Linked DNA regions of Homo sapiens: all the other regions are linked to region 1. The links come from fine-mapping of genetic effects on gene expression. A gene starts in region 1. Each other region holds a variant in brackets. All regions are shown on one strand. Distances are from middle to middle. Region 1 holds the start of CHAF1A (chromatin assembly factor 1 subunit A). Region 2 holds the start of PLIN5 (perilipin 5). Region 3 overlaps CHAF1A (chromatin assembly factor 1 subunit A).

The links. PIP is the estimated chance that this variant, and not a neighbour inherited with it, causes the effect. A credible set is the group of variants that fine-mapping cannot tell apart.
Region 2: its variant is the best candidate, but not a certain one, in a credible set for the expression of CHAF1A in minor salivary gland (GTEx, PIP 0.79).
Region 3: its variant is the best candidate, but not a certain one, in a credible set for the expression of CHAF1A in lung (TOPMed, PIP 0.64).

What each region holds. Positions count from the first base shown.
Region 1 is chr19:4,397,975-4,408,248 of GRCh38, reverse strand. It overlaps CHAF1A (chromatin assembly factor 1 subunit A), which reads right to left and starts at 5,609. Exons shown (of 15, transcript NM_005483.3): 1 at 5,435-5,609; 2 at 2,287-2,337. The coding sequence starts at 5,486. It overlaps SH3GL1 (SH3 domain containing GRB2 like 1, endophilin A2), which reads left to right and starts at 7,702. Exons shown (of 10, transcript NM_003025.4): 1 at 7,702-7,925. The coding sequence starts at 7,881. RefSeq lists enhancers at 4,456-5,151, 5,152-5,849, 7,512-8,341 and silencers at 5,362-5,641, 7,604-8,113, 8,174-8,223.
Region 2 is chr19:4,526,773-4,537,046 of GRCh38, reverse strand. It overlaps PLIN5 (perilipin 5), which reads left to right and starts at 1,823. Exons shown (of 8, transcript NM_001013706.3): 1 at 1,823-1,882; 2 at 2,952-3,032; 3 at 5,225-5,420; 4 at 7,181-7,263; 5 at 7,794-7,974. The coding sequence starts at 2,973. It overlaps LRG1 (leucine rich alpha-2-glycoprotein 1), which reads left to right. Exons shown (of 2, transcript NM_052972.3): 2 at 1-645. RefSeq lists an enhancer at 2,117-2,672. The variant C/T (reference allele first, on the strand shown) is at 5,140.
Region 3 is chr19:4,429,722-4,439,995 of GRCh38, reverse strand. CHAF1A (chromatin assembly factor 1 subunit A) reads right to left here. Exons shown (of 15, transcript NM_005483.3): 10 at 10,208-10,274; 11 at 9,355-9,447; 12 at 7,789-8,044; 13 at 6,457-6,926. Among named protein-coding and RNA genes, the nearest start is that of MIR4746, 11 kb to the left of the region's middle. RefSeq lists enhancers at 2,316-2,816, 2,817-3,317, 8,503-9,266. The variant T/G (reference allele first, on the strand shown) is at 3,854.

The sequences.
Region 1 (10,274 bases):
TGCACTCCAGCCTGGGCGACCTGAGCGAAACTCTCAAAAGAAAAAAAAAAAAAAAAGACGGGGCAGGGGCTATCTGAAGCCAGGTACACTGACTTACATCTATAATCCCAGCACTTCGGGAGGCTGAGGCAGGAGGATCGCTTGAGCCCAGGAGGTAGAGGCTGCAGTGAGCTGTGGTGGTGCAACTACTCTGCAGCCTGGGCAAAAGGGACCTCGTCTCAAAAAAAAAGAGGGGGTGGGGGGTGCTATCTTTTCATTCTATCCTTTTCTAACATCCTAATTTTACTTATTTTTTTTTCTTTTGGAGACAGTCTTGCTCGTCACCCATGTTGGAGTGCAATGGCGCCACCTCAGCTCACTGCAACCTCCACCTCCTGGGTTCAAGCTATTCTCCTGCCTCAGCTTCTCAAGTAGCTGGGATTACAGGCATGCACTACTACACCCAGCTAATTTTTGTATTTTTAGTAGAGACAGGGTTTCGCCATGTTGGCCAGGCTGGTCTCAAACTCCTGACCTCAGGTGATCTGCCCGCCTCCACCTCCCAAGGTGCTGGGACTACAGATGTGAGTCACCATGCCCCGCTTCAACATCCTAACTTAAAAAACAAAATCCTGACAAGCCTTTTAGCAGAGCCATCGCCAGAATTTCAAGAGACATTTGTTTATTTCAGATGCAGTTCATATTCCAAATTTATTTTTAATGGGTGAAAATCTCATTTGATAATAACTGCATCTGGTTCTCAAGTAGAAAATATAGACACATTTGTGGACAGGGTTTTTTTTTTTTCTCCTGGCCTCAGCACCCTAGGCTCTGTTAGGCTTTTCTCATCAATCAAACTGTTCTCCCAGAGTCTGCCAGGCTTCGGGCTGGTTAGGAGGAACACAGAAACACTTTGGAGAGTGAATTTCCCAAAGAACCTATGTTCACTTACTTCAATGCCATTGCATCTTTTATTAACTATTTCATCATGTAATAGACCAAATAAAAACCTGTTTTTTTTTGGGGGGGGTGTGGGGGGAGTTGTTTGTTTTGAGACAGAGTCTTGCTCTGTCACCAGGCTGGAGTGCAGTGGCGCACCCTTGGCTCACTGCAACCTCTTCCTTCCGGGTTCAAACAATTCTCTTGCCTCGGCCTCCTGAGTAGCTGGGACTACAGGTGCCCCCTACCATGCCCAGCTATTTTGTATTTTAGTAGAGACGGGGTTTCACCATGTTGGCCAGGCTGGTTTCAAACTCCTGAGCTCAGACAATCCGCCCACCTTAGCTTCCCAAAGTGCTAGGATTACAGGTGTGAGCCTAGCATCTGGCGTCCCCCTTTTTTTCAAGAGACAGAGTCTTCCTCTGTCATCCAGGCTGAAGAGCAGTGGTGTCATTATAATTCACCGCAGCCTTGAACTCCTGGACTCAAGCACTCCTCCCACCCCAGCCTCTCAAATAGCTGGTTTTACAGGTATGCAACACTGCACCCAGCCCAAGTTTGAAAAACCCAAAACTGTAGTTTCTAAAAATACAATCTGGGCCGGGTGCGGTGGCTCACACCTGTAATCCCAGCACTTTGAAAGGCTGAGGCAGGGGGATCACAAGGTCAGGAGATCGAGACCATCCCGGCCAACATGGTAAAACCCCATCTCTACTAAAAATAGAAAAATTAGCTGGGTGTGGTGGCACGCGCCTGTAATCCCAGCTACTTGGGAGGCTGAAGGAGGAGAATTGCTTGAACCCAGGAGGCGGAGGTTGCAGTGAGCAGAGATCGCACCACTGCACTCCAGCCTGGGCAACAGAATGAGACTCCGTCTCAAAAAAAAAAAAAAAAAAATTACAATCCAACCGCTCATCTGGCCCAAGGGTGAACACACTCCCCGTTTTATGCAGAAGGATTTGGGAGCATTTATCTTCCAGGACAACAGTGGTTCTCTGAGGGGGCAGTTCTACCTCCCAGGGGACATCAGCCACGTATAGAGATATTTTTGGTTGTTACGACTTGGAGGATGCACTTACTGGCATCCGGTGGGAAGAGGCCAGGGATGCTGCTACGCTCCCTACAACATACAGGAGAGCTCCCAGCTGCAAGTTACAAAACACCAATCGTGCATAAGTGGAGGCCTCGGGGTTTACTTGTGGGAACCCCACGAGACATTACTGTGTGAAAAGCATTTTCCCAGCTTCCTGGTCTGAAGAAGGACTGTTTCTCTCCCCTCTAGCTCCAGGCTTCCACTGAGGTCTCCAACAAGAGACAAGGAAGACTATAAACTACGAACAACTCTTTAACCCATTTCCAAATAATTACCTTGTATTAACTTCTTAACTGGAAAAGCTGGTCTATCTTTGCAATCCATGGCTGCAAATAAAAGTGTCAAAGGGTAAACTGTTAAATTCTGCAAATAATCAAGTTAGCAAATACATATGTAGAGCCAATTATGTACAAGGTGGAGGCAATTCTGACCCCTCTGTCCTCGGGGGCCATTTGACACAGTCTAGAGATGTTTTTGGTTGTCATGATGCAGGGAGGGCTCAAAGGGATGCTATTCACATCCAGTGGGTAGAGGCCAGGGATTCTGCTAAATGTCCCACAATGCAATGCACAGCACACCACAATGAAGAATTATATGGGCCAAAAAAAAAAAATTTTTTTTTTTTTTTTGGAGACAGAGTCTCACTCTGTCGCCCAGGCTGGAGTGCAATGGCACAGTCTCAGCTCACTGCAACCTCCGCCTCCTGGGTTCAAGCGATTCTCCTGCCTCACTCTCTCAAGTAGCTGGGACTACAGGCGCATGCCACCACTCTCGGCTAATTTTTGTATTTTTAGCAGAGACGGGGTTTCACCATGTTAGCCAGAATGGTCTCGAACTCCTGACCTCGTGATCCACCCGCCTCAGCCTCCCAAAGTGCTGGCCACGGCGCTTGGCCTCAAAATGTTAATAGGTTGAGAAATCCTACCCTAGACACTGTCATGTCTTGTTTTATTTTCTTTGTGGCATTTAATCTGAAACTTTCGTGTTTATTACGTCTCTCTGGAAACAAAATGCCAACTCTATGACAGCAGAAAGACTTGTTCCATGCTGCACCTATGGTACCTGGTTAGGGTCTGGAATAAATCAGAAAGCCAACTAAGAGAGTAACCGGAACTGTTTCATGAAATGAAAGTGGAATGAGTAAAAGTAGGGAGGAGAGAAAACATCAGATTACCTATTTCATTCCCATGATCCCCAAACATCTTCCTCCAACCCAAGCCCCCATACCACCACCAAATCTGTAAAATCAGAAAAGGGATCCTTTTCTTTTTAAAGAGAATTCATGAAGGTACCACAATTTAAAGCACTTTGAGCTTGCCAGGCAGGAGCTGAAGTGCTGTCAAGAGAAGATAAGACAAAATATTTTCCTGCAAAAAAAATCTCAAGAAACCATCTAATAATATCAAAGCAGATGCAGCAGTGATCATAAATAGAAGCGAGTCTTTAGATAAATACCTTAAACAGAGTAAGTTTAGGAAGCTCACACTTACCAGGAGATCTGGCTTGGCAAAACCTAGTTTAGTTATTTTGGTTAATCTACGTATGTTTTGTAAGCATTACATAAAAGTGAGTACTTTTTAAAAGCAGACTGGGGCTTCCTAAAAAACTCCATCGTCCATACATGAAACCACCCCTCACCCACCGCCCCAAGCTTAGTGAATAAGAAAAGGTACTGAGAAAATTCATGTTTCCTTTCTAGCCACTTCAAAGAAATAAAGACAGTATCATTCTCAAGTGTCCACTTACCAAAAGCCATGGATTTCTACCCCCTAACTGAAGGATATGATTTTTAGTCACTTAACTTTATTTTCGAGACAATCACAAAAATCTATTTGTGTGGCTTTGAGTCACTAGCTTTGGTGCAAGTGGAACAGAAACAACCTCATTAAAAACAGGACCCACCCTCATTAAAAAATCTTGTATATAAAACGGGACACTCCCAATCCAGAGATCCAAAGATACACACGATTAACACATATGTGTGTATAAAGTTACTAACTGCTCTTTATTCTGCGATTACATCCTTTCTAATTTTATTTGGCACTAAAATATACTTTCCTTTCATGATAGCATGGTCCTAGCGAGTAGCGATTTTTTTTTTTAAAGTTAAATATCCTGGCCAGGCATGGTGGCTCATGCCTGTAATCCCAGCATTTTGGGAGGCCAATGCAGGTGGATTACCTGAGGTCAGAAGTTCGAGACCAGCCTGCCCAACATGGTGAAACCCCGTCTCTACTAAAAAATACAAAAATTAGCCAGGCATGGTGGTGCAGGCCTGTAATCCCAGCTACTTGGGAGGCTGAGGCAGAAGAATCGCTTGAACCAGAGAGGCAGAGGTTGGGCAACAGAGCAAGACTCAGTCTCAAAATAAATAAATAAATAAAGTTAAACATCCTGACTTAAAACATCACAGCTCCACGACAGTACCAACTTTATATTAATTTTATGTCTCCGGGAAATCCCACAGGCTAGAAGGAACTACAGCCATGATTTTCAGCCAAGGCGGAATCTGCCCCATAGGGGACACAGGGCAATGGTATTTCTGGCTGTTACTAAGGCATGGTGAGAGGGGCTGCTACTGGCCTGCAAAAGGCGGAGGCCAGGGATGATGCTTAACACCCTGCAGTGCCGTGCCCAGGACGGCAACAAATATCAACACTGCTGAGGCTGAGAAACTGGACTGGCGTCCATTCTAGCCCTTCATTCGTTCACGTTATTTACTGAGCACCTACTATGTGCCAAAGCGTAATGCCAAGTGCTGCCAAAGCGTTATGTAATGCAGAGTCCAGCAAGGGAGAGGGACAGTCTGGTCTTCCTTGGTTCACCCTCCCACGTTTCAGGAGGCCTGTGGTGGGCTCCAAAGACCCCATTCCAAGGCACACGGAGGAGGAAGTCACGGTGCATATCAGGAAGGAGCAAGAACTCGGGAGTCCCACCCTCCTGGCCATCTCTACCATCTGGGCCTCTTCTTACCCGGGCTTACCCCGACCCTCAGCGGCATCGGTACTGGTCCCCGAGCCCGTGCGACCTTGGGCCTCAGTTTCCCCACCCGCTGCAAGGTCCAACATGGTCAAGGGACACAAACGCATCCAGTAACCTGCAGGGCAAGCCCTTTCGCTTCCCTGGGCCTCAGTTTCCCCTCTCGGCCCCTCCGACCCACCGCCCCAGAGAGTCCTGGAGGGACGAACTGACGCAAAAGCGCCGGAAACAAACAATATGGTCGCGGCTACAACAATAACGTCAACAAGGGTGCCCTTGGGGACGCCAGGCCCTCGCTGGGGATGAGAAGGCCCCAGGGGGTGAACGCCCGGCCCGCAGGACCAGGCTTGGCGCCCGGAGGCCCGTCCGCCTCCCATCGCCGCCTCGGCCCGTCCAGGCCGCGCGCCGCGCCCCCCCTTCCCCTCGGCGCGGGCCCGAACCGACCTGTGGCGGCTCCCCTGGCGCCGGGCGCCCCGCACTCCAGCTCCTCCAGCATCGCCCCGGCGGCAGCTCGACCTCCTCTCAGGCGGCGGAGGCGCGGGCTCCCCTCAGGCGGCCGCTGCTCTTCGCCCTCCCGCCCGCGCCGCTGCTGCCGCCGCGGCCGCCGCGCTCGTATTTGGCGGGAACCGCGGCGACCCCCGCAGTCCGCGCGCCAATTGGGCGAGCCCGGGTCACGTGACGGCCCGCCTCGGGAATTGAGGGGCGCCGGGGGCATCCTCGCGAGATCCGTGACTTCCATTCCTCCCAGGGCTCGCCCATTGACATATCCGCGAGGGACTGGGCTTCCCCTCGGAGGCCTGTCATTGGCTGGGAGGAGCTGCCCTGCGATTGGAGGAAGGAGGTGTCAAGCTCATTGCTCTGCGCTGCGACTGGCTGATCGCGTGGGATAGTCCCTAAGAGGAGGGAGGCCCAGGCTCTTACGTCACCAGAACATTTTACGCAAGGCGCAGATGACAACTTGAAAGTGGGATTTAGATGAGGAACCTGGAGTTTTGAGTTTATCCTAATGGGACATCGGCTAAATATAGCAACAGCAATTAAAATTATAAATTGCTTTCTACAAGAACAATAAAACGAAGTCTGGGGAGCGCTTCGGAAGTATTTGACATTCAGTAAATAACATGTAGAATGAGTGAACGAAATGGACGAAATGGATCGTTTCTGGTTTAATCCTCAGGAAATTGGCACATGCTGTTTTCTCTGCCTAGAACAATCTTTTCGCAGCTCTTTTCCTGGCTAATTTATACTTTTCAGATCTTAGATCGTCACCCCAGGAAGCCTTTTCTTCCCCAACCCTGACAATATCAAGTGCCTACAACACTGTTCTTTTCCTTAAAGCAATTACAGCTGTGTCTATTTATTAGTTTGTTATTTGACTAATGAATTAATTTCTGCCTTTTGTCATTAGTTCTGGCGAGGGTAGGACTCATTCCTCACTGGAACCCCAGGACCTGTTAGTAACTGATCATATTTACCAGGTCAATAAATGTTTGAGTGAATGTATAAATATTTGATTGAACTGTGTAGATCAAGCAGATTAAAAGCCTCACACAAAACAGAGAACTTCAGTGTCAGCCTGTGAGTGTAGAAACAGGTTTTCTTTCTTTCTTTCTTCCTTCCTTCCTTCCTTCCTTCCTTCCTTCCTTCCTTTCTTTCTTTCTTTTTTCTTGAGACGGAGTCCCTAGTAGCTGGGACCACAGGCGCCCGCCACCACGTCCGGCTAATTTTTTCTATTTTTTAGTAGAGACAGGGTTTCACCGTGTTAGCCAGGATGGTCTCAATCTCCTGACCTCGTGATCCGCCCACCTAGGCCTCCCAAAGTGCTGGGATTACAGGCGTGAGCCACCGCCCCTGGCCCTGAATTGCATTCTAGAAGCATCTTTCTGGCTGCCATGACAAGGAAGAATTGGAGGGGAGGACTGGTGGAAAGTATGGTCAAGGCATGAAGACAGACCTAGATGTCTAGATGTGTCACGTGGGCAACTGAATGGATGAACACAGGACAGAGAGAGAGAGGAAGAGAGGTGGCCGGGCACGGTGGCTCATACCTGTGAGACCAGTACTTTGGGAGGCTGGATTTGGTGGGGGGGTTGGGGGTTGGATCACCTGAGGTCAGGAGTTCGAGACCAGCCTGGCCAACATGGCGAAACACTGTCTCTACTAAAAATACAAAAATTAGCCTAGCATGGTGGTGCGCGCCTGTAATCTCAGCTACTTGGGAGGCTGAGGCAGGAGAATCGCTTGAACCCGGGAGGCGGAGGTTGCAGTGAGCCGAGATCACGCCACTGCACTCCAGCCTGGGAGACAAAGCAAGACTCCGTCTCAAAAAAAAAATAAATAAATAAATAAAAATGGGAGGGGGCTGAACACTTAGACGAACTGGATTTAGCTAAGATGAGTAAACAGGAATCTGAAGAATCGTAAGCAGGGGCCCCTTCTACTTCCCAACCTCCCTGGCCAGGTTTAAACTAAGCGCGTTTTCCAAGACGTTAGGGTCACCTCCACGACTCCAGGGGGCGCTGCAACTGCTACGGCCCCTCTAGGCTCGCCCCGCTCAACTCACTGACAGAGGCGGCCTCTCCCGCGGTAGACAATGTGCACGTGCGCTCTTCAGCCGGCAGAGGGCGCGCGTGCGCAGACGGGGCCGGGGGCGCGCGCGGGGGCCGGGGGCGCGCGCGGGGGCCGGCACCGGAAGCGTGCGGTTGCCATGTAATATCCTGGCCGCGCGGGCGCGCGAGCGGCTGAGGCGGCGCCGGGGCGGGCGCGGAGCTGGCAAGCGGGTGGCGGAGGCGGCGCCGACGGGGACTGCTGAGGCGCGCAGAGGGTCGGCGGCGCCCGGGAGCCTGTCGCTGGCGCGGTCCGGGCGGGAGGCTCGGCGGCGGGCGGCAGCATGTCGGTGGCGGGGCTGAAGAAGCAGTTCTACAAGGCGAGCCAGGTGAGCGCAGGCCCAGGCGGGAGCCGAGTACCGGGCCCCGGGCTGCCCGGATGAGGGAGCCAGGCCCGACCTGGCCCGGGAGGGGGCCGGGGGGACCGAGGTGGGGACGTTGGCGCGTGTCCCCTGCCAGGTGGGAAGACCAAGGGACGGACGGGGGCGACGAGGTGGCCCAGGCCCTGCCCGCCATGCGGGCTCCAGAAGCGGGGACAGAGCCCCTGGGAGGAGGGGAGAGGCACCCTGGGCTGCCCAGGGACGCGGACCTCTCCCCTCCTTCTCTCCGCTGCAAAGGCGGGGTGCGGGGAGAGAAGGGGAAGAGAGGAGTCCCGAGGCTGTCGACACAGGACTCTTGCCAGATAACCCAGAGCCAGGGAAAAGTTGCGTCTAGAGCAGTTACGTTCAAAATCCTCTGGATGGGCAAGGTACAAAGTTGAAAAGGTAGAGGAAGAAGTCAGTTTCCCCTCTCTGCTCCTCGGGCAGCCAGCCCTTCTCCCCAGAGACAAGCGACTGTCATCGACTCCGTATGTCCCTTTCCTAAGATACGTGTGTGCCTTTCCTTTAAAAACACGTACCCTGTGATAGCATATGCCACAGAATCCTGTGTGCTGTGTTTTTCATTGCTTGGAGATCACACTGGAGCGGGATTTCTCCCCCTCCGTCGGCACTGTTGACATCTGGGGCTGGATTGTTCTCCGTGGTGGGGCCGTCCTGGGCACTGCGGGGTGCTGAGCAGCGCCCCTGGCCTCCACCCACTCCGGGCCAGGAGCACCCCCAAGTCGTGACAACCAAAAATATCTTGAGACATCACCGTGTGTCCCCTTAGAATCAGTCCTCCTTCCCTCCCTTCGTTCCTTCCTTCCTTCTTTCCTTCCTTCCTCCCTCCCTCCTTGCCTCTCTCCCTCCCTCCCTTCTCTTCTTTCCTTCCTCCCTTCCTTTCCTGTCCCCCAGGACTACTGCTCTAGACCATACTCCACACTTCTTGGATTTTTTTTTTTTTTTTTTTTTTTGAGAGGGAGTCATGCTCTGTCGCCCCAGCTGGAGGGCAGTGGTGCAATCTCGGCTCACTGCAAGCTCCGCCTCCTGTGTTCAAGCAATTCTCCTGCCTCAGCCTCCCCAGTAGCTGGGACTACAGGCATGCGCCACCACGCCCGGCTACTTTTTGTAATTTTAGCAGAGACAGGGTTTCTCCATGTGCCCCAGGGTGGTCTCGAACTCCTGGCCTCAAGTAATCCGCCTGCTTCGGCTTCCCAACATGCTGGGATTATCGACGTAAGCCACCTGCCTGGCCTACTTGGCTCTTTTTAATGGGTACATTGTATTTCATTCCATGACATATACCATAATTTATTTAACCAGTTGTCAGTTGATAGATATCTCTATTGTTTACCGGAATTTTCTGTTACCATTACTACAATAAATAGCCAGTGAATATCTTTGCTCACCAGTGGGATTAGTTTTATAGGATGAATTCCCAGAAGTAGAATGCTGCATCCCAGCCTAAGTGCATTTGATATGGACAGATAAAGGGTTTTTTTTGGAAACTCCAGGGCCCACTGCTCATGAATCTGGTGAAAGCTGTGGATCCACTCTCCAGAAAACTGGGCACATTTAAAATTTTCACTTTGCAATTTCGAATGCAAGAAGCCTCAAATTTGGCCGGGCGCGGTGGCTCATGCCTGGAATCCCAGCAGTTTGGGAGGCCGAGGCGGGCGGATCACTTGAAGCCAGGAGTTTGAGAGCAGCCTGGGCAACATGGCAAAACCCCATCTCTACTAACAATACAAAAATTTTGTATTTTTGCCTGTAACCCCAGCTACTAAGGAGGGTGAGACAGGAGAATCTCTTGAATCCGGCAGGCAGAGGTTGCAGTGAGCCGAGATTGCACCACTGCACTCCAGCCTGGGTGACAGAGCGAGACTCCGTCTTGAAAAAAAAAAAAAGACAAGAAGCCTCAGATTGTTGAATCCTATTGGTCCGTGTACTGCAGGGTGAGGTTGTGTGGAATTTGTGTAGATAGAGTCCACCGAGGAATGAGCAATGATCTTAGCAAATGCTTGGGCCAAGGTGGCAAACAGGGTTCTCTGCCCACAGTTCGGAGATGCCCAGTGGGAGCAAAGAGAAACGAGTCCCCAGTAACACCCAGCAGGTACCTTTGCCCCTGGAAAGAAAAAAGTAAGGACCCTGCCAGGTGCTGTGGCTCATGCCTGTAATCCCAGCACTTTGAAGGCTGAGGCAGGGGTTCCCTTGAGTTCAGGAGTTCAAGACCAGCCTGGGCGATATAGGGAGATCCCATCTCTACAAAATATGAAAAAGTTAGCCAGGTGTGGTGATGTGCACCTGCAGTCCCAGCTA
Region 2 (10,274 bases), 130 kb before region 1:
CCCCATCCTGGGACCTAACTGGAAATAAAACCTTGACTGTTGCCCGGGTGTCATTTTACCAGTGGATTTCTGCCAGGGCTTGTGTCCTAGGAGAAGGTTTAAGTTAAACCAGATTGCCCAGGTCTCCAAACGATTTGTCATGCTGACCTGAGATCATCGAAGGGGGCACCTGCCCCCGGGCAAGGTTGCAGGGGCAGGATGGGGCTGAAGGGATGAGCAGGGTCCCGGGCCCACCTGCTGATACAGCATTGGCCATGTGGGGGCTGCAATCGGATTTGGAAGACCCTGGGGCTTGGGGGCATGTCCAGTTTTCCCAGCTCCCTAAAAAATGACCATGCAGCCTGGCGCCGTGGCTCATGCCTGTAATCCAAACACTTTGGGAGGCTGAGGCAGGCAGATCACCGGAGGTCAGGAGTTCGAGACCAGACTGGCCAACATGGCAAAACCCTGTCTCTACTAAAAATACAAAAATTAGCCAGGCACAGTGGCACGTGCCTGTAATACCAGCTACTTGGGAGGGTCAGGCAGGAGAATCACTTGAACCTGGGAGGCGGAGGTTGCAGTGAGCCAAGATCACGCCACTGCACTCCAGGCTGGGCGACAGAGTGAAACTGTGTCTCAAAAATAAAAATAAAAATAAAAAGACCATGCCTACATCTGTGGTCATTCCAGGCAAGGCAATGAAAAGGCAGGGTTCTGAGGTCCAGCAGGGCTGGGTTTGAATAGGATCCCTGGCCGGGCACGGTGGCTCATGCCTGTAATCCTAGTACTTTGGGAGGCCAAGGCAGGCAAATCACGAGGTCAGGAGTCCAAGACCAGCCTGACGAATATGGTGACACCCCGTCTCTACTAAAAATACAAAAATTAGCTAGGTGTGGTGGCAGGCGCCTGTAATCCCAGCTACTCCGGAGGCCGAGGCAGGAGAATCACTTGAACCCAGGGGGCGGAGGTTGCAGTGTGTCAAGATCGCGCCACTGCACTCCAGCCTGGGCGACAGAGTCAGACTCTGTCTCAAAAAAAAAAAAAGAAAAAAAAGGAATAGGATCCCTCACTTGCTGTGGTATGCGGGGCAAGTGTTTTATGATCTCTGAGCCTCAGCTTGCTCATCTGTGAAATGGGGATCCTAGGGAAAGGGAAGGCCTGGCTTCTGGCTTAGTTAAGGGGCAGATTAAGAAATAAAAAGAGGCTGGGTGCAATGGCTCACACCTGTAATCCCAGCAATTTGGAAGGCTGAGGTGGAAGGATCACTTGGGGCTCAGGGGTTGAAGACAAGCCTGGTCAACACAGGGACATCTCGTCTCTACAAAAAGTTTAAAAAGTTAGCTGGGGGTGGTGGTGTGTGCCTGTGGTCCCAGCTACTTAGGAGACTGAGGCGGGAGGATCACCTCAGCCTGGGAGGGCAAGGCTGCAGTGAGCTATGATCACACCACTGCACTCTAGCCCTGGGCAACCGAGCAAGACCCAGTCTCAAAAATCGATAAATAATAATAATTAATAAGAAAAGTCATCAGCGAGTTGGCCAAGGTCACTCAGCAGGGCTATGGGGGCTGTGATCGCATGGACTGTCTCTATGGCAACAGCAGTGAGGATGACAGGTGGCCAAACTTGGTCCGGGAACGTATAATAGCTCAATCTTTTGAATCTAGCGCTCCCGAATTACTATGGCAACCGTAGGGCACTGGGCCAGCTCAAGGAGAGGGCGAGGGAAGCCTGGAGCCACGCCCCCTGGGCACGCCCCCGCACGGCCTCTCCCCATTGGTCAGTTCCGGAGGCCCCCACTGCGCGAGCAGCTATAAGAAGGGCGGGCGGGACCGGCGGGGGTGTGGAGACTCGAGCCTGGGGTCGGCGGAGACAGCTGGTGTCTGAAGCCGCTCGCGCCCAGGTGAGTGCCCTGAGGGCGGCGTCCGGGAGCGCCCCCCCGGGCTTAGGAGAGGAGCTCCAGATAGGGTGGTTGGGCGAAGGTCCGGCGGCGTGGGACGGGTATGACCGGCCAGAGCAGGTGGCTGGGACCCTTGGCCCGGTTGGCCCCAGCTCAGGACCCAGTTGGGCGAGGACCAGGCCTCAGAGGACGCGGGGTGGCAACCGGAGGGATCGCAGGCGGCAGGTCTGAGGCCCGAGGTCGAGCTCCCCCCCTGTAACTCTAGCTGGCTGCGTGACCTTGGGACCAGCATGGACCTGCTGCGTACCTCAGTTGCCCTGTCTGTCAAATGAGCTGTGAGTGGACTGGGACCCAGCAGCTACCACCTCCAGCCGTCTAGGGTGCTTGGGCAGTTCTGGGCCCAGGCAGGGGCCGCAGGGGTAGCAGGGACCTCCCACATCTTACAAAACAGGAAGCAGCCCAGAGAGGTGAAGGTGCTTGCCAAAAATCACACAGCTGGCCAGGTGCAGTGTCTCATGCCTGTAATCCCAGCACTTTGGGAGGCCGAGGTGGGCAGATCACTTGAGCCCAGGAGTTTGAGACCAGCCTGGGCAACATGGCGAAACCCGGTTTCTACTAAAAATACAAAAATTAGCCGAGCATGGTGGCACGTGGGTAATCCCAGCTAACTGGGAGGCTGAAGCAGGAGAATCACTTGAACCTGGGAGGCGGAAATTGCAGTGAGCTGGGATGGCGCCACTGCTCTCCAGCCTGGGCGAGAGAGATTCTGTCTTTAAAAAAATAATAAAAATAACACCGCAATTAATGGTAGCATTTGAACCCAGGTCTTTCTCACCTCAGAGACCATGCTTCGAGTCACTCCGGCAACCCTACCTTGCCAGAGGCTCATTATTGGACACCCTCTGTGTACAGAGCTCTGGACATGCATTGTCTGAGCTCCACAGAATGCCCCATTATGCAGATGAAGAAACTGAGGCCCCAAGAGGTTTGAGAGTTGCTCAAGTCACAGAGCCCAATTTGACAGGATCTGATGCCTGGGCAGGTGCTCCCCTTACTCAATCCTGCCCCGCAGGGTGACCCTGTTTGCAGCACGATGTCTGAAGAAGAGGCGGCTCAGATCCCCAGATCCAGTGTGTGGGAGCAGGACCAGCAGGTGAGGGCTGCCCCTCCCATGGAGCAGGGACAGAAGGTATTGTGTGGGACAGTCCCTTCTAGGAGCGTTTCAGGCCAGGTATCCCGCCCCACTCCTCTCCTTGCTGGGAAAACCTGAGTCATAAAATATTTTGGTCCATGGAGGGGATGGTCTATTTCCTAGTGGGGGCTTAATGAGGCCCTGGGAGGGGAGTGTCTCTCAAAGACACCCAGCTGGCTTCTGTGGCCCCTACCCAACCCTTTCCCTCTCCTTTGATCCCTGGGTCTCCACCTGTATCCTTCTGTCTCCACGTCCACCATCATGGCGCCCTCAGTAACAACAATAGTAAGAGCAGCAATCACTGTATCAGTCACAGTTCCAACCGTTTCATGTATATTGGCTCCTTGAACACCCATCACAACCCTAGTAACCCATTTCATAGATGGGGAAACAAAGGCACCGAACAGTTCAGTGGCTTGCCCAAGTTCACACAACTTGCAGGCAGCTGAACCAGAAGTGAACAGAGGCCACTGTGCTCCAGGGGCAGTGCTCTGAACCCCCAGACTCTAACATCTCCTCCCTCGAGCAGACAGATCGCAGTGGACCCTTCAACAACATGGGTTTGAACTGCACAGGTCAGGCTGGGTGCGGTGGCTCAGACGCCTGTAATCCCAGCACTTTGGGAGGCCAAGCGGGCAGATCAACTGAGGTCAGGAGTTCGAGACCAGCCTGGCTAACTTGGTGAAACCCTGTCTCTACTAAAAATACAAGAATTAGCCGGGTGTGGTGGCGGGTGCCTGTATTCCCAGCTACTCGGGAGCCTGAGGCAGGAGAACCGCTTGAACCCTGAAGGCGGGGGTTGCAGTGAGCCGAGATCACGCCACTGCACTCCAGCCTAGGTAACAAGAACGAGACTCCATCTCAAAAAAAAAAAAAAGCCAGGTGGGGTGGTGCCTGCCTGGAATCCCAGCTAATTGGGAGGCTGAGGCAGGAGAATCTCTTGAACCCAGGAGACAGAAGTATGCAGACCTTTTTCAACCAAATGCAGATAAAAAAAATATAGTATTTGGCCAGGTGCAGTGGCTCATGCCTATAATCCCAGCATATTAGGAGACTGAAGCGGGAGGATCGCTTGAGCCAGGAGTTCAAGACCAGCATGGGCAACACAGCAAGACCCAATCTCTATAAAATAAAATAAAATTAGCTGGGCACAGTGGTGTGCACCTGTAATCCCAGGTACTTGGAAACTGAGGTTGGAGGATTGCTTGAGGCTAGGAGGCTTAGGCTGCAGTGAGCCGTGCTTGAATCACTGCCCTCTAGCCTGGCCAACAGAGCAAGACCTTGTCTCTATTGAAAACAAAAAAATTGTGACCAGGTGCAATGGCTCAGGCCTGTAATCCTAGCACTTTGGGAGGCTGAGGTGGGTGGATCACCTGAGGTGGGTGGATCACCTGAGGTCGGGAGTTCGACACCAGCCTGGTCAACATAGTGAAACCCTGTTTCTACTAAAAATAAAAATAAAAACAAAATTGGCTGGGCGCGGTGGCTCACGCCTGTAATCCCTGCACTTTGGGAGGCCAAGGCAGGTGGATCACCTGAGGTCGGTAGTTTGAGACCAGCCTGACCAATGTGGAGAAACCCCATCTCTACTAAAAATACACAAACAAAACAAACAAAAAAAACGGGTATGGTGGCGCATGCCTGTAATTCCAGCTCCTCGGGAGGCTGAGGCAGGAGAATCACTTGAACCCGGGAGGCGGAGGTTGCGCTGAGCCGAGATCGTGCCACTGCACTCCAGCCTGGGCGATAGAGCGAGACTCCCTCTTATAATATAATTGCCAGGTGTGGTGGCGGGCACCTGTAATCCCAGCTACTTGGGAGGCTGAGGCAGGAGAATCGTTTGAATCCAGGAGGAGGTTGCCGTGAGCCGAGATGGTGCCACTGCACTCCAGCCTGGGTGATAAGAGTGAAACCCCATTACAAACAAAATTGTAATGCTCTGTGTACGCCATGGGAAGAGGAGCCTGTGAGTGCAGGAACCATGACATTCTCACATCCACGTTTATCTTCACTGCCTCTACGTGGCGGGGTGCTCAGTACTCCATCCTTCCACTCTCCCATCCCTCGT[C/T]CTGGCCCAGAGAGGGGAAGTAGGTTGAGGTGTGGCTAGGGCCCCACTTCCCCCAGGGTCCCCCTGATGCCGACCCTTCCCGCAGAACGTGGTGCAGCGTGTGGTGGCTCTGCCCCTGGTCAGGGCCACGTGCACCGCGGTCTGCGATGTTTACAGTGCAGCCAAGGACAGGCACCCGCTGCTGGGCTCCGCCTGCCGCCTGGCTGAGAACTGCGTGTGCGGCCTGACCACCCGTGCCCTGGACCACGCCCAGCCGCTGCTCGAGCACCTGCAGCCCCAGCGTGAGTGCCCTGGCCCGTGTCCCTGGGAGCTGTGGCTTGCCACCCCCCCACCGCCCCCTGTCCCATCCTCCTTGGTCTATCTGCATGACACTCCTGGGGGTCATCTTCAGCCTAGCCACCTGTCCCACTGCCATGCCACCTGTCCTCAATCTCTTCACTTAAGTCCTTCTTTAATCTGATCACCAGCCAGGCATGGTGGCTCATGCCTATGATCCCAGCACTTTGGGAGGCCGAGGAAGGAGGATCACTTGAGGCCAGGAGTTCAAGACCAGCCAGAGCAACGTAGCGAGACCCTGTATCTCAAAAAAAAAATTTTTTTTTTAAATCTGGCTGGGTGTGGTGGCTCATGCCTGTAATCCCAGCACTTCGTGAGGCTGAGGCGGTTGGATCACAAGGTCAGAAGTTTAAGACCAGCCTGGACAACATAGTGAAACCCTGTCTCTACTAAAAATACAAAACTTGGCCCGGTGTGGTGGCACATAACTGTAATCCTAGCTACTCAGGAGGCTCATGCAGGAGAATTGCTTGAACCCGGGAGGCAGAAGTTGCAGTCAGCCAAGACCGCACCATTGCGCTCCAGCCTGGGCAACAGAGTGAGACTCCATTTCAAAAAAAAAAAAGCAAAAACAAACAAAAAAAACTGATCCCCTGATAGGTGCGGTGGCTCATGCCTGTAATCCCAGTATTTTAGGAGTCCGAGGCAGGCAGATCACTCACTTGAGGTCAGGAGTTCGAGAACAGCCTGGCCAACATGGTGAAACCCCAACTCTACTAAAAATACAAAAAATTATCCAGGCGTGGTGGAGGGCGCCTGTAATCCCAGCTGCATGGGAGGCTGAGGCAGGAGAATCGCTTGAACCTGGGAGGCAGGGGATGCAGCAAGCCGAGATCGCACCACTGCACTCCAGCCTGGGTGACAGAGCTAGACTCTGTCTCAAAATAAATAAATAAATCTGATCCCCTGGCCCTCTGCCCTTACCTGTTTACTGGTGGGGCCCCTCCTCTCTGTCCCTATCCATCTGTCTCCCTGTGTCCCCTCCTTTGTTGGCCTGATGTGCCTTGGGTCCATTTGTCTCTCCAGGCCCCCTCCCCTCTGCACCTGCCTCTGCCTGTCCTAAGCCCCGCAGCCTCCGCTCTGTAGTTCTCACATCTCTGTGGACCCCTGAGCCGATGACAGGCGGGGGACTACAGGATCCTTGGCCTCTAGTCTGACCCAGGAAGAGGGTCACCTGAGGGTCCTAGCCCAGCACCTCCTCACCTCCCTCTCAGCCAGCTTCTGTGACCTTGAGTCTGTCCGCTGGGCCATCTGAGCTGGGCACGGCTGAAAAGTCGCCTTGGTGCTGGGAGAACAGGGTGGGTGGCAGGGCCCAGGCAGGATGGCAGAGGAGGCAGTGCCCAACCCAGCGGCCTACCCACACCCTCAGGGCCCCCAGTCTCACCTAGGGAGGCAGCCAGGTCCCCCTGTGGTCTAGGCCTTCTCCCCATCTCCCTCGTAGACTCTCTCTCCAGGCGCCACAGGTGTCTGCCCCAGCGTCTTTGGTGTAAGCGGCTTCTTGGTGTAAGGTCTCAGAAAGCCTGTCCATCTCCTGGTGTGGGTCTCGTCTCCATCATTCCGTTTTGTTTCTCCCTGTCTTATCCTGGTCTCCTTCCTTCTCTGTCTCTGCTTCTCTCTCTAGCATTCCCTCCTTCTACAACTCTCACTGCGTCCCTATCTCCCTCTGCGTCTCCCCGAGTCTCACTCCCCGCCTCTCTCCCTTCAGTGGCCACTATGAACAGCCTCGCCTGCAGGGGCCTGGACAAGCTGGAAGAGAAGCTTCCCTTTCTCCAGCAACCTTCGGAGACGGTACCCCGGACGACTAGACATGGGGACCTCCAGTGGGGGCAGGCCAGATTAGAGGCGGGAGGGAGGGAGGGATGGTGACAACCAGGCTTTTAGTTAACTCAAGAAAAAACAGCCAGGTTAAAATAACTGCAACGTGTGTGTGTGTGTGTGTGTGTGTGTGTGTGTGTGTGTGTATACATATATGTATATACGTATAGTGTATATATGTATATATACGTATAAGTATATATGTATATATACGTATAAGTATATATGTATATGTGTATATATACATGTATATATGTATATGTGTGTATATGTGTATATATGTATATGTATGTGTGTATACATATGTATTGCTAGTAAGGGCAGTTAACTCCCTCAACACCCTCTGTGAGGGAAGGGTTTTATCACCCATTTTATAGGGGAAACTGAGGCACGGAGCCAGGTAGAAGTCCAGGGATCTTTGAGTCCCAGCCCCAGGGAACTAGGGTGGCAGAAATGGAGCTGGAGTCCCACGGTGCCTGGAGTGGGGGGGCCCTTCCTTCCAGGTGGTGACCTCAGCCAAGGACGTGGTGGCCAGCAGTGTCACGGGTGTGGTGGACCTGGCCCGGAGGGGCCGGCGCTGGAGCGTGGAGCTGAAGCGCTCCGTGAGCCATGCTGTGGATGTTGTACTGGAAAAATCAGAGGAGCTGGTGGATCACTTCCTGCCCATGACGGAGGAAGAGCTCGGTGAGGACGACACCCTCAACCCTAACCCCTGAGTCCTGCCCCGTCCCCATCCCCTGTGGTACAGATCAGAGAGGTCTGAGACTCACCCAAGGTCACACAGCAGATCAGCAGGAAACATACAACTCAAAACCAGGCCTGTCCTCCCTCCCGGTCACTTCCACGGCCCCTCAACCTGCATCCCGCCAGGAGTCAGAACACCCAGACCCTAAGGGCATATAGGGCTTTTAGACTTGAGGTCCCAAACTGGTGGCCCCCAAATGCCTGTGCAGCGTGTTTTAAATATTTTCATTCTTTGCATGCATTTAACAACCAGATTTTGCATTACATGTCCCGATTCTTGGCTTGTTTTGAAAAACCAGACACACTGCCAGGCACAGTGGCTCACGCCTGTAATCTCAGCACTTTGGGAGGCCAAGGTGGGCAGATCATGAGGTCAGGAGTTCGAGCCCAGCCTGGCCAACATAGTGAAATCCCGTCTCTACTAAAAATACAAAAAATTAGCCAGGCGTGGTGGCGTGTGCCTGTATTCCCAGATACTCGGGAGGCTGAGGCAGGAGAATCACTTGAACCTGGGAGGTGGAGGTTGCAATGAGCTGAGATCGCGCTATTGCACTCCAGCCCAGGCCACAGTGCGAGACTCCGTTTCAAAAAAAAAAAAAGAAAAACTAGACACAGCCAGAATATTGTCTGCTCCTTCAGATGGTTTGCTCAGCTCCACTAGTCCCCAGTGGTTTATGTCATATCTACTTTGATGGTTTTTGGTACCTGCCTGGCCCTGGAGACCATGTGAATGTCCAACTCTGGCCTTACAGTACTGGAAGAATGTATGGGCTTACCCCCACCTCAGCAGAAAAGCAGGGAGGCGGCCGGGCACGGTGGCTCAGGCCTGTAATCCCAGCACTTTGGGGGGCCGAGGCGGGCCGATCACGAGGTCAGGAGATCGAGACCATCCTGGCTCACACGGTGAAACCCCGTCTCTACTAAAAATACAAAAAATTAGCCGGGCGTGGTGGCGGGCGCCTGTAGTCCCAGCTACTCAGGAGGCTGAGGCAGGAGAATGGCGTGAACCCGGGGGGTGGAGCTTGCAGTGAGCAGAGATCGCACCACTGCACTTGAGCCTGGGTGACAGAGCGAGACTCTATCTCAAAAAAAAAAAAAGGCAGTGAGGCATTGATCAGGCACTTCTTGTGTGCCAGGCACTCCTGAATTTTTTTTTCTTTTTTTTTGAGACAGAATCTCTCACTTTGTTGCCCAGGCTGGAGTGCAGTGTTGCGATCTCAGCTCACTACAGCCTCTGCCTCCCGTGTTCAAGCGATTCTCCGGCCTCAGCCTCCCAAGTAGCTGGGATTACAGGCACCCACCACTACACCCGGCTAATTTTTGTGTATTTAGTAGAGATGGGGTTTTGCATGTTGGCCAAACTCCTGACCTCAGGTGAGCCACCTGCCTTGACTTCCCAAAGTGCTGGGATTACAAGCGTGAGTCCACCACGCCCAACCATTGTTGTTTTTTTTTTTTTTTTTTTTTTTTTTTTGAAGTGGAGTCTCACTCTGTCGCCCAGGCTAGAGTGCAGTGATATGATCTTGGCTCACTGCAGCCTCCGCCTCCTGGGTTCAAGTGATTCTCCTGCCTCATCCTCCTAGACAAATGGAACTAGAGGTGCACACCACCACATCTGGCTGATTTAAAAATTTTTTTTTAGGCCGGGCGCGGTGGCTTACGCCTGTAATCCCAGCACTTTGGGAGGCCGAGGAGGGCAGATCACAAGGTCAGGAGATCGAGACCATCCTGTGAATGGTGAAACCCCGTCTCTACTAAAAATACAAAAAATTGGCCGGGCGTGGTGGCGGGTGCCTGTAGTCCCAGCTACTCAGGAGGCTGAGGTGGGAGAATGGCGTGAACCTGGGAGGTGAAGCTTGCAGTGAGCCGAGATTGCGCCACTGCACTCCAGCCTGGGCAACAGAGCGAGACTCCATCTCAAAAAAAAAAATTTTTTTTCTTAGAGATGGGGTCTTGTTCTGTCACCCAGGCTGGTCTCCAACTCCTGGGCTCAAGTGATCCCCCTGCCTTGGCCTCCCAAAGTGCTGGGATTACAGGCGTGAGCCGCTGTGCCTGGACTATGATATATTCTTTTTATTTTTTTCCACCATATCTTGTGTGGATTTTCTCTTTTTTTATTATTTTTCATTCATTTTTTTAATTTTAATTTTTTTTTGAGATGGAGTCTTGCTCTGTTGCCCAGGCTAGAGGGCAGTGGTGTGATCGTAGCTAACCATAGCCTTCAATTCCTGAGCTCAATT
Region 3 (10,274 bases), 32 kb before region 1:
GGCTCCCCTCCTGGATCCTCTCTTCAGTGGCTGGGAGCCCAGGCTGTCCCTCTCCCCAGGCAGCATGGGTTGACCCTGTGAGGACACAGGAGAAACATCTTGCTCTGTCACCCAGGCTGTGGTGCAGTGGTGCAATCACAGGTAACTGCACCCTTCAACTCCTGGTCTCAAGTGATCCTCCTGCCTCAGCCTCCCAAAGTGCTGGGATTACAGGCATGAGCCACTGAGCCTGGCCTACGGCCATTTTCAACTACCTTTTTGAAAGAATAGTTAAGCAAAGAAGAGTCTAAGAGTCCCCTGTAGACGCTGCTGAGGAGGGACATTCTGATCTGGAGGTGTCTGGGGACGTTAAACAAAAGAACATGCCAATTTCTTCAGAGCCACCTCAAGTCACTGGGCCCTCCCTCCACACAGGAGACGCGTTGACACATTAGGCTTTTCTTGGATCCAAAATTTTTCAGAGCAATCACCACTCTTCACCCTCTAGGCTGAAGACAGGATTTAACACATAACACCGAGTCCCACTGTGCTGAGCTGCCGGCAGCTTGCTTCACGGGGACAGCTGTCATCTCGCCAGCAGCACTGCAAGTGCTAAACACAGACACGGAGGAGCGCAGACTACGGAAAACAGGAGTCAGGAAAACGTTTAACGACTACATGGGATGAAGATGGTGTCACTAACATTTGTGCCTTTTTGTCTTTTTTTTTTTTTTCTGAGACGCAGACTTGCTCTGTTGCCCAGGCTGGAGTGCAGTGGCACAATCTCGGCTCAACTGCAACCTCCACCTCCTGAGTTCAAGTGATTCTCCTGCCTCGGCTTCCTGAGTAGCTGGGATTACAGGCGTGCACCACCATGCTCAGCTAATTTTTGCATTTTTAGAGATGGGGTTTCACCATGTCGGCCAGGCTGGTCTTGAACTCCTGGCCTCTCAAGTGATCCGCCTGCCTCGGTCTCCTAAAGTTTTGTGATTACAAGCGTGAGCCACTGCACCCAGCCATCTATGCTTTTTTTTTGAGACAGAATCCCGCTCTGTTGCCCAGGCTGGAGTGCAGTGGCGCGATCTCGGCTCACCGCAAGCTCCGCCTCCCAGGTTCATGCCATTCTCCTGCCTCAGCCTCCCGAGTAGCTGGGACTACAGGCAGCCGCCACCACGCCTGGCTAATTTTTTGTATTTTTAGTAGAGACGGGTTTCACCATGTTAGCCAGGATGGTCTCAATCTCCTGACCTTGTGAGCCACCCACCTCGGCCTCCCAAAGTGCTGGGATTACAGGCATGAGCCACCACACCCGGCCATCTATGCTTCTTTAGTTTTATTTTGATCACATAATGTTTTGTTGGCAAGGGCAAACACATCCTTCCTTGTATTTTAAAATTTTTAAATAAAACGGAGGCCCGAAGAGTTGAGGTGTCCTAGGGCTTCACAGATACATGGCACTTCACCCCACTAGGTCAGAATGCCTTAAGAATATCTCTTTTGAGCTCTAAGTAAAAAGATTTAAAGACTCCCTGGCTCAGGTCTGTAATCCCAGTACTTTGGGAGGCCGAGGCAGGTGGATTGCTTGAGCCCACAAGTTCAAAGACCAGCCTGGGCAACACAGCAGGACCCAATATCTACAAAACAAAACAAAACAAAACAAAAAAACCTCTTCTTGCATGAACATGGATGAAGCTGGGAACCATTATCCTCAGCAAACTAACGCAGGCACAGAAAACCAAATATCACATGCTCTCACTTATAAGAACATGTGGACACAAAGAGGGGAACAACAGACACTGGAGCCTATGTGACGGTGGGAGGGAGAAATTCAGAAAAAATACCTTAGTACCCAATAAATCATCTATACACCAAACCCCCGTGACATGAGTTTGCCAACCTGCACATGTACCCCTGAACCTAAAATAATAAAGGGCAACAGGGCAAGACCCTGTTTCTAATTTAACAACAAGAAAAGATGCCGGGCGTGGTGTCTCACGCCTGTAATCCTAGCACTTTGGGAGGCCGAGGCGGGCAGATCACAAGGTCAGGAGATCGGGACCATCCTGGCTAACACAGTGAAACCCCGTCTCTACTAAAAAAATACAAAAAATTAGCTGGGCGTGGTGGTGGGCGCCTGTAGTCCCACCTACTTGGGAGGCTGAGGCAGGAGAATGGCGTGAACCCAGGAGGTGGAGCTTGCAGTGAGCTGAGATCGCACCACTGCACTCCAGCCTGGGCGACAGAGCGAGACTCCGTCAAAATAAAATAAAATAAAATAAAAAAGATGAAAACTTTCAAATTGGGAAAAAAAGTGTAACCGAGTAAAAAATATGGATGTACACCACTTGCAGATGAATGGCTTATCCCTCCCCTTGGGTGCAGAAGCATCAGTCAGCAGCTTTATTAAATGCCAGGAGGCTGGAGAGAGGATCGCTAGAGCTCAGGAGTTGGAGACCAGCCTGGGCAACATAGACCCTGTCTCTACAGAATATTTGAAAATTAGTTGGGCATGGTGGCACGTGCCTCTATACTCCCAGCTCCTTAGGAAGCTGAGGCAGGAGGATCACTTGCGCCCAGGAGTGGAGGCTGCGGTGAGCTGTGACTGCACCATTGCACTCCGGCCTAGGTAACAGAGTGAGACCCTGTCAAAAAAAAACAGAGGATGCCAGGGCACATGTCCCATCCGGGCTCATGTGCTTCCACAGCCCCACCTTTGGGTCCCACCTGTGTGCCCCTCCCCACACAAGCTCTGAAAAAAAACACAGGACCAGACCCTGCTCCCCAGGGACGTTTATGTCCCAAACTGCAGGAGGTTCAGGGGTGGGGGTTAAGCATCAAGCTGGGCCTGGGTCTCCATTCCTTCACGTGTGACCTTCGTGCGTCCGCTGCACTGCTGAGCCCCAGGAGGCCCTCACCTGTGCCACGCAGCAGAGGCCACCAATCACGCGCATGTGGCCACCACTGCCATCCATTAGCAGGTGAGATGCTGTGTTTTGCTAACTCCAAGGCCCACCCAACCTCTCTGACCCACTCTAGTTAAACTGGGTGCACCCTTCTTTCCTTGTGGTTAGGGATGATAAACAGGCACTCACTGCCCCCGAAGCACAGTAACTCTGATGTGGTGCTGGGCACATGGGGCTCAGGGCGCTATTTTCCGGGTGGGGAAACATGGGTTCCACATGTTGACAGGGAGCAAGAGCAGTGTTTGGGAGGACCAGGGGCGGGGCACTGCACCCCAGCTGGGAGAGGCAGCTGCTGCATCAAATCAGTGGAGAGGGGTGGGGAAGGAGGCCGTCCAGGGCCTGGACTACTGTGTGGAGCATGAGGAGACCCCAAAGGAACATCTGAGGGACACAGGGGTTCCCAGGGGAGGGCTGATCAGCAAAGGCCCTGGAAAACTGCTTGCATAGTGACACAACCAGATAGTACCTTCCCGCCCCGATCATTTTCAGGCTGGGGAGCTCCGGTTCCCTCTAAGGCTGCTCAGGTGACCAGGGAAAGGCACTGCTCACACAGGGCTTGAACAAAGAATGCATCCAGCAAAGCTCTGTGTGGGGGCCTCCTGTGGCCCCAGCTCCAATGCACTGAGCTTCCCACGGCGCCAAGCCGCCTCCACAGAGCCAGGGGAACTATGCACATGACACACTGTACAGGGACAGAGGCTCTAGGGAGTGCCAGGAACAGTTTCAGTCGTAGCCCTGGACCCTTTGGGATGTTATGATGGCCCCTCCTGCTGTGACAGCTGAGGGAGATTCACAGCATATTAAGGCCCATGGCTGTGTGCTGGCAGCAGGGAGATGGCTGAGCATCATCTCAGGAGCCATTTCTCTCGCCTCCCTGCCCCTAACGACCACCTTTTCTTTTCTTTTTTTTT[T/G]GGGGGACTAGAATCTTGCTGTGTTGCCCAGGCTCGAGTACAATGGTGTGGTCTCGGCTCACTGCAACCTCCACCTCCTGGGTTCAAGCGATTCTCCTGCCTCAACCTCCCGAGTAGCTGAGATTACAGGCACCTGCCACCATGCCCAGCTAATTTTTGTATTTTTAGTAGAGACAGGGTTTCACCATGTTGGCCAGGATGGTCTCGAACTCCTGACTTCAGGTGATCTGCCCGCCTTGGCCTCCCAAAGTGATGGGATTATAGGCGTGAGCCACTGTGCCCAGCCAACGACCACCTTTAACATCAGAGAAGAGGATGCAAGCTGGGGCCGGGGGTTATCCACTGTCTTGCTCCTTGTCCCAAGTCTCTGAAAACCTGTAACTCCATCAGATCGTGGCCTTGAAGGAAAGCCCAAGGTTCACAGGGACAGATAGGTCTGCGTTAAGTGTAGATATTAGAAATCAAACTCAGGGAGCCAGGCACGGTGGCTCATACCTATAATCCCAGTACTTTGGGAGGCAAAGGCAGGGGGATTGCTTAAGCCCAGGAGTTGGGGACCAGCCTGGGCAACATGGTGAAACCCTGTTTCTACAGAAAATTAGCTGGGTGTGGTGGCATGCACCTGTAGTCCCTCTCAGCTACTGAGGAGGCTAAGGTGGGAGGATCGCCTGAGCCTGGGGAGGTCAAGGCTGCAGTGAGTGGTGATCACGCCACTGCACTACAGACTAGGCAACAGAGTAAGACCCCTGACTCAAAAAAAGGCCAGGACAGGCGTGGTGGCTCATGCCTGTAATCACAGCACTTTGGAAGGCTAAGGCGGGCGGATCACGAGGTCAGGAGATTGAGACCACGGTAAAACCCCGTCTCTACTAAAAATACAAAAAATTAGCCGGGCGTGGTGGCGGGCACCTGTAGTCCCAGCTACTCGGGAGGCTGAGCCAGAAGAATGGTGTGAACCCGGGAGGCGGAGCTTGCAGTGAGCCCAGATCACACCACTGCACTCCAGCCCGGGCAACAGCGCGAGACTGTCTCAAAAAAAAAAAAAAAAAAAAAAAGGAAAAAAAAGAAAAAAGAGAAACTCACTTCCGAACACTGTGTGGTAAGGACAAAAAGTATGCAATGAACGTTAACAAAGCCGATCTATGGCCAGGGGTGGGTGCCAGGGGCCAGTGGCTCTCTGGGCATGAGAGTTTCTTAAGACCAGACAGTGCCCCCATCACACACCCCAGGGCTCCATGCGCTTGTGCCTCCGAGGCACCCATAAGGCTGGAATCACACAGCCATTCATTCCCCTTACAGGCTCCTGTCTGTGCCTTACACCGGGCGGTGTTCTGCATATACCTGTGTCTGAGAGACCGATCAGAGTGCCTGGAGCACAGTAAGTGCTTAATAACTGTGCTTGAATGCAAAATTCAAGAACCGTTGAACAAAAATAAAAATGCTACCACATGGAATATTATTCAGTGTGAAAAAAAAAAGAGCTATCAAGCCACAAACAGACACGGAGGAACTGTCAACGCATACTGCCAAGTCAAAGGAGCCACACACGATGCGATTCCAGCTACAGGGCAATCTGGAAAAGGCTGATCCACGGAGATAGAGAGGTTGGTGATTTCCAAGGGATTGGACGGGCAGAGCACAGGGGCCTTTCAGTGGGGAGAAGCCTCTTTGTTTAAAACAATAAAGGTAGACGCACAGCATCCAACATTCATTCAAATCACAGAACCCTCAACACCAGCAACAAACCCTAGTGGTGGTGATAAATCAACGAAGGTGCGTTTTATGTATTTATTTTTAGAGACAGGGTCTTGCTCTGTCGCCCAGGTTGCAGTGCAGTGGCATGATCATAGCTCACTGCAGCCTCAATCTCCTAGGCTCCAGTAATCCTCCCGCCTTAGCCTCCTGAGTAGCTGAGACTACAGGTGCATGCCACCGCTTGGCTAATCTAAAAATTTTTTCTTAGAGATGGGGTTTTGCCATGTTGCCCAGGCTGGTCTCCAACTCCCGGGCTCAAGTGATCCTCCCGCCTCAGCCTCCCAAAGTGCTGAGACTACAGGCGTGAGCCACAGTGCCTGGCCTGAGGTGCACTGATTGTAACCAATGCACCATTCTGGGAGGTGATGTTGGGTGGCTTGGCTTGGCTTTGGGGAAGGAGGTGTATGGGAACTTTCTGTACCTTCCAATCGATTTTGCTGTGACCCTAAAACTGCTCTAAGAGTAAGGTTATTTAAAAAACACAAAAACACCAGGCGAGGTGGCTCACGCCTGTAATCCCAGCACTTTGGGAGGACAAGGCAGACGGATCATGAGGTCAGGAGTTCGAGACCAGCCTGACCAACATGGTGAAACCCCGTCTCTACTAAAAATACAAAAATTAGCCAGGCATGGTGGCGTACACCTGTAATCCCAGCTACTCAGGAGGCTAAGGCAGGAGAATCACTTGAACCCAGGAGGGAGGAGGTTGCAGTGAGCTGAGATTGCGCCACTGCACTCCAGCCTGGGTGACAGAGCAGGACTCCATCTCGAAAAAAAAACAAAACAACAAAAAACAAACAAAAAAAGAAAAGCCCTGCAGAGGCCCCCACCTGCCCACCCCACCTCACCTGGCCGTCGTGCCTGCGCTTCTTCATGAATTGGGTGATGCACATGCTGCCCGCTGACTTCCTCTTCAGCGAGATGGGAGTGCCCTGGCTGGGCCCCGTGGAGGGGACGCTGCCACTGTCCTCTTTGGGGGCCGAGGGCACCGATGTCACATAGCTCCACTGGCACGGCACGGGCAGGTGCTCCTGCTGGAAGCTCTGTAGCACCTGCGGGTGCACGTACCAGCACATCCTGAAGTCAGGCCGCTTCTCATACACTGAGTTCTCGGAAATGAGCCGCTTGAGCCGGGACTTAGAGGGGATGGCGGCATCCTCGCTGGGGGTGGGGGTGTGCAGGTAGGTGGTGGAGGGGCTCCGCGGGCTGCCGGTGTGGTTGCTGAGCAGTCCCCGGCGGCAGTGCTCCTGGAACTCCCGGATGATGACCTTGCTCCCGTTCACATTGCCGTGCAGGAGCGGCAGCAGCTGGGCCAGGACTGGCAGGAGGGAACATGGGTGGGCATGAGGCTTGGGGAGCCACCCATCACCACAGGCCAAAAAACAAAACACATACACAAGCTCATTGCCACCGAGGCTTGGGGCATGGCCAGCTTCGGGGATAGGTGGCCTCATGAGGGCGGGTGTAAGACAGGGTAGCACCTACGCACCTGCCCAGAAGTGAGCCTTGGCCGGGCACGTGTGTTGCCAGGGCTGACTTCAAATGCCTGCTGTTCCTACCCAAATGACTGCCCTGCTCTCCTTGTGTGCCATGGTCCCTCCCCAGTTTTTTGAGTTTTTTTTTTTTTTTAGACAGGGTCTTGCTCTGTCACCCAGGCTGGAGTGCAGTGGCAGGATCATGGCTCACTGTGGTCTGAAACTCCTAGGCTCAAGCAATCCTCCCACCTCAGCCTCTTGAGTAGCTGGGATCACAGGTGCGTGATACCACACCCAGGTAATTTTGCATTTTCTGCAGAGATGGGGTTTTGCCATGTTGCCCAGGCTGGTGTCGAAGCACTAGGCTCAAGCGATCCTCCCACCTTGGCCTCCCAAAGTGCTGGCATCACAGGCATGAGGCACTGTGCCCGGCCCCTCCCTGGCTTTTGAGAAAGCACAGCCCCCACTCCAGCACTCTCTGTGCCTGTGTCCTGGTTGATAAAACAAGCCAATTAAGGGACCTGCCTCGTCCTGCTGCTAGGGACATCATTGAACGTACGGACATGTACAGGAAAAGGGCTGGCCTCTGTTATTTGTGGAAAGAACATTTGCATCACGGACCCACTAGCCTGTGACTCTTGCCCTCAGCCCTGGAATTAGCTGGGCCCAGGAACAGGTGGGTGGCCTGGCCCCGCCCACACTCACTCTGCTCGTCTCTCCTCTCCCGCTTGGAGGCCTTGGGCGTCTGCTCCTCCTGGGCCGGCAGGGTCTCCAGGAAGCAGGCTGCGAACTGCTGCAGTACCTTCAGGTCATCGCCTGCGCAGTCTCTGTCAGCCGCCCACACGCAGCCGATCTTCACAGGTTGCAGGACGCGAAAGCGCTTCCCCTTAGCCAGGAACTCGTCCCACTCCTTGGCCTTCAGTTTCTGGCGGACCTTATGGTTCTCAGGGTCGGCACACTCCTTGTGGTTTAGAAAGCAGAAGTTTATTTGGGGTTCTTGCTCCCCTATGCCCGGGCACTCTTTTGAGGAACCAGTCCCCAGCCAGCTGGGGAGCAAGAGGAAAGGACAGGGGCACAAAACTTCCCACAGTGTCAGGGCCAGGGCAGAGCACACCATGCGCTGGCTGCCCCTCTTCCAGATGGAATAATTCACACCTGGTCTCCTTTGGGAGCGTCACAGATATTTCTGAACTCACCCATGAGGCCTCTTTTAACACCCCTCTGAATTTTCTGGTGAATGTGTGATCGTGGAGCCGTTTAACAGGGTTGGGTGTCTACCCACATGGCCCAGGCATCTGGCAGACACATGCAGGGCCTGAGACCACTCTCTGACTGACAGTTCAGGCCTCGGTGGTCAGATATGCACAAGGAATGCCTAGGCCTCCAGTCCAACCATGAGACAGTCCCACCAAATCCCCACTTCCCAAACGACAGGCCTTCAAAACAAAACAGGACCAAAAACAACTTGCTTGAAAGCAAGTTCCTGCCGGGCTCGGTGGCTCATGCCTGTAATCCCAGCACTCTGGGAGGCCGAGGCGGGTGGATCACTGGAGGTCAGGAGTTCAAGACCAGCCTGGCCAACATAATGAACTCCCGTCTCTACTAAAAATACAAAAATTAGCCAGGTGTGGTGGCACACGCCTGTAGTCCCAGCTACTTGGGAGGCCGAGGCAGGAGAATTGCTTGAACCCGGGAGGCAGAGGTTGCAGTGAGCCAACACCGGGCCATTGCACTCCAGCCTGGGTAACAGAATGAGAATCCGTCTCAAGAAAAAAAAAAAAAAAGACAGTTCCACAACCTTATGGAATCTGGAAAGGGGTGGCAGGCAGGTTCGCCTGCAGAGACGTGGGCAATCTTCTGGAGAGATAGGGAAGTTCTGTTTTATTTCGGGCGGTGGTTGCCCACATTCACTTGATTGTTACGTCATCAAACTCAACACTTACAATGCACATGTCTTGCTGCATGCTGACTGTATGTCAGCTCGGGTGGTTTCCAGCCTTCTAACCCACAGACCATGGCCACGCTCCCTCACCAGGGTGTCTGCTCCTATGGCTCCCCTCGCTTGCAAGCTCCTCCTACGTCTGCCACCCTCCCAGGTAATACCAAGTTCAGGCCCAGCTGTTCCCACGAGTGAGCTTGCGTGCTTGGAATGCAGTCCAAATCTCGTATGGTTGGGCTGGGACCCCCGTCACCCTCCCAGGTCAGGCCACTGAGCACCAGTCCAGAAATGAACTTTTGCTGAGCCGGTGACCTCCCCCTTCACTCCCTCACCTCTGTCACACCTTCGTCCTCAGACAGGTACCCATGGGGCACAAAGAAACCATCGTCCTCATCTTCATCCTCTCCCATGTCGTCATCATCATCCTCAAAAGGAGAAAAAAAAAAGAGTTCATCAGATAGAAAAGCAGAGTGTGTGCCTTATTAAAAACAAAGTAGGCCAGGCGCAGTGGCTCACACCTCTAATCCCAGCACTTTGGGAGGCTGAGGTGGGCGGATCATCTGAAGTCAGGAGTTTGAGACCAGCCTGGCCAACATGGTAAAACTCTGTCTCTACTAAAAATACAAATCTTGGCTGGGCATGGTGGCACGCACCTATAATCCCAGCTACTAGGGAGGCTGGGGCAGGACTATCACTTGAGCCTGGGAGGCAGAGGTTGCAGTGAGCCGAAATCGCGCCACTGCACTCCAGCCTGAGTGATAGAGTGAGACTCCATCTTAAAGAAACAAAAAAATGTAAAGCTGTGAACATCTGCTTTGCATGGCCTCCCGACAGACACGGTGAGCATCGGCAGAAAGCCCACTAGGTCACAGCAGCTGGGCAGTCAGGAGGAAATGGTGTGCAGCAGGCCCGCAGGAGGCAAGAGGGGGCTGTGGGGCCACGGTGCAGATGCGGACGGGATCCCATCCCCAGCAGCCACGTGGGCGAGTGTCACCAGATGAGATTTTTCGAGAGAAGCTGGAAGTCTGGATGTTGAGGTGCGTTCAGGTTTCAGACCACACAGCAGGTCAAACACCAGCTGTCAGTGAGTGAACACAGCTGGGCTGCATCCTTAGCCCCTCACTGTGGGACAGAGACTCAAACACAAGCCGTCTGTGAGTGAAGACAGCTGGGGCACATCCTTACCCCCTCACTGTGGGACAGGGACTCCCCAGGCTCCTCTTCTTCCCACTCCTCATCACTGTCCACCTCA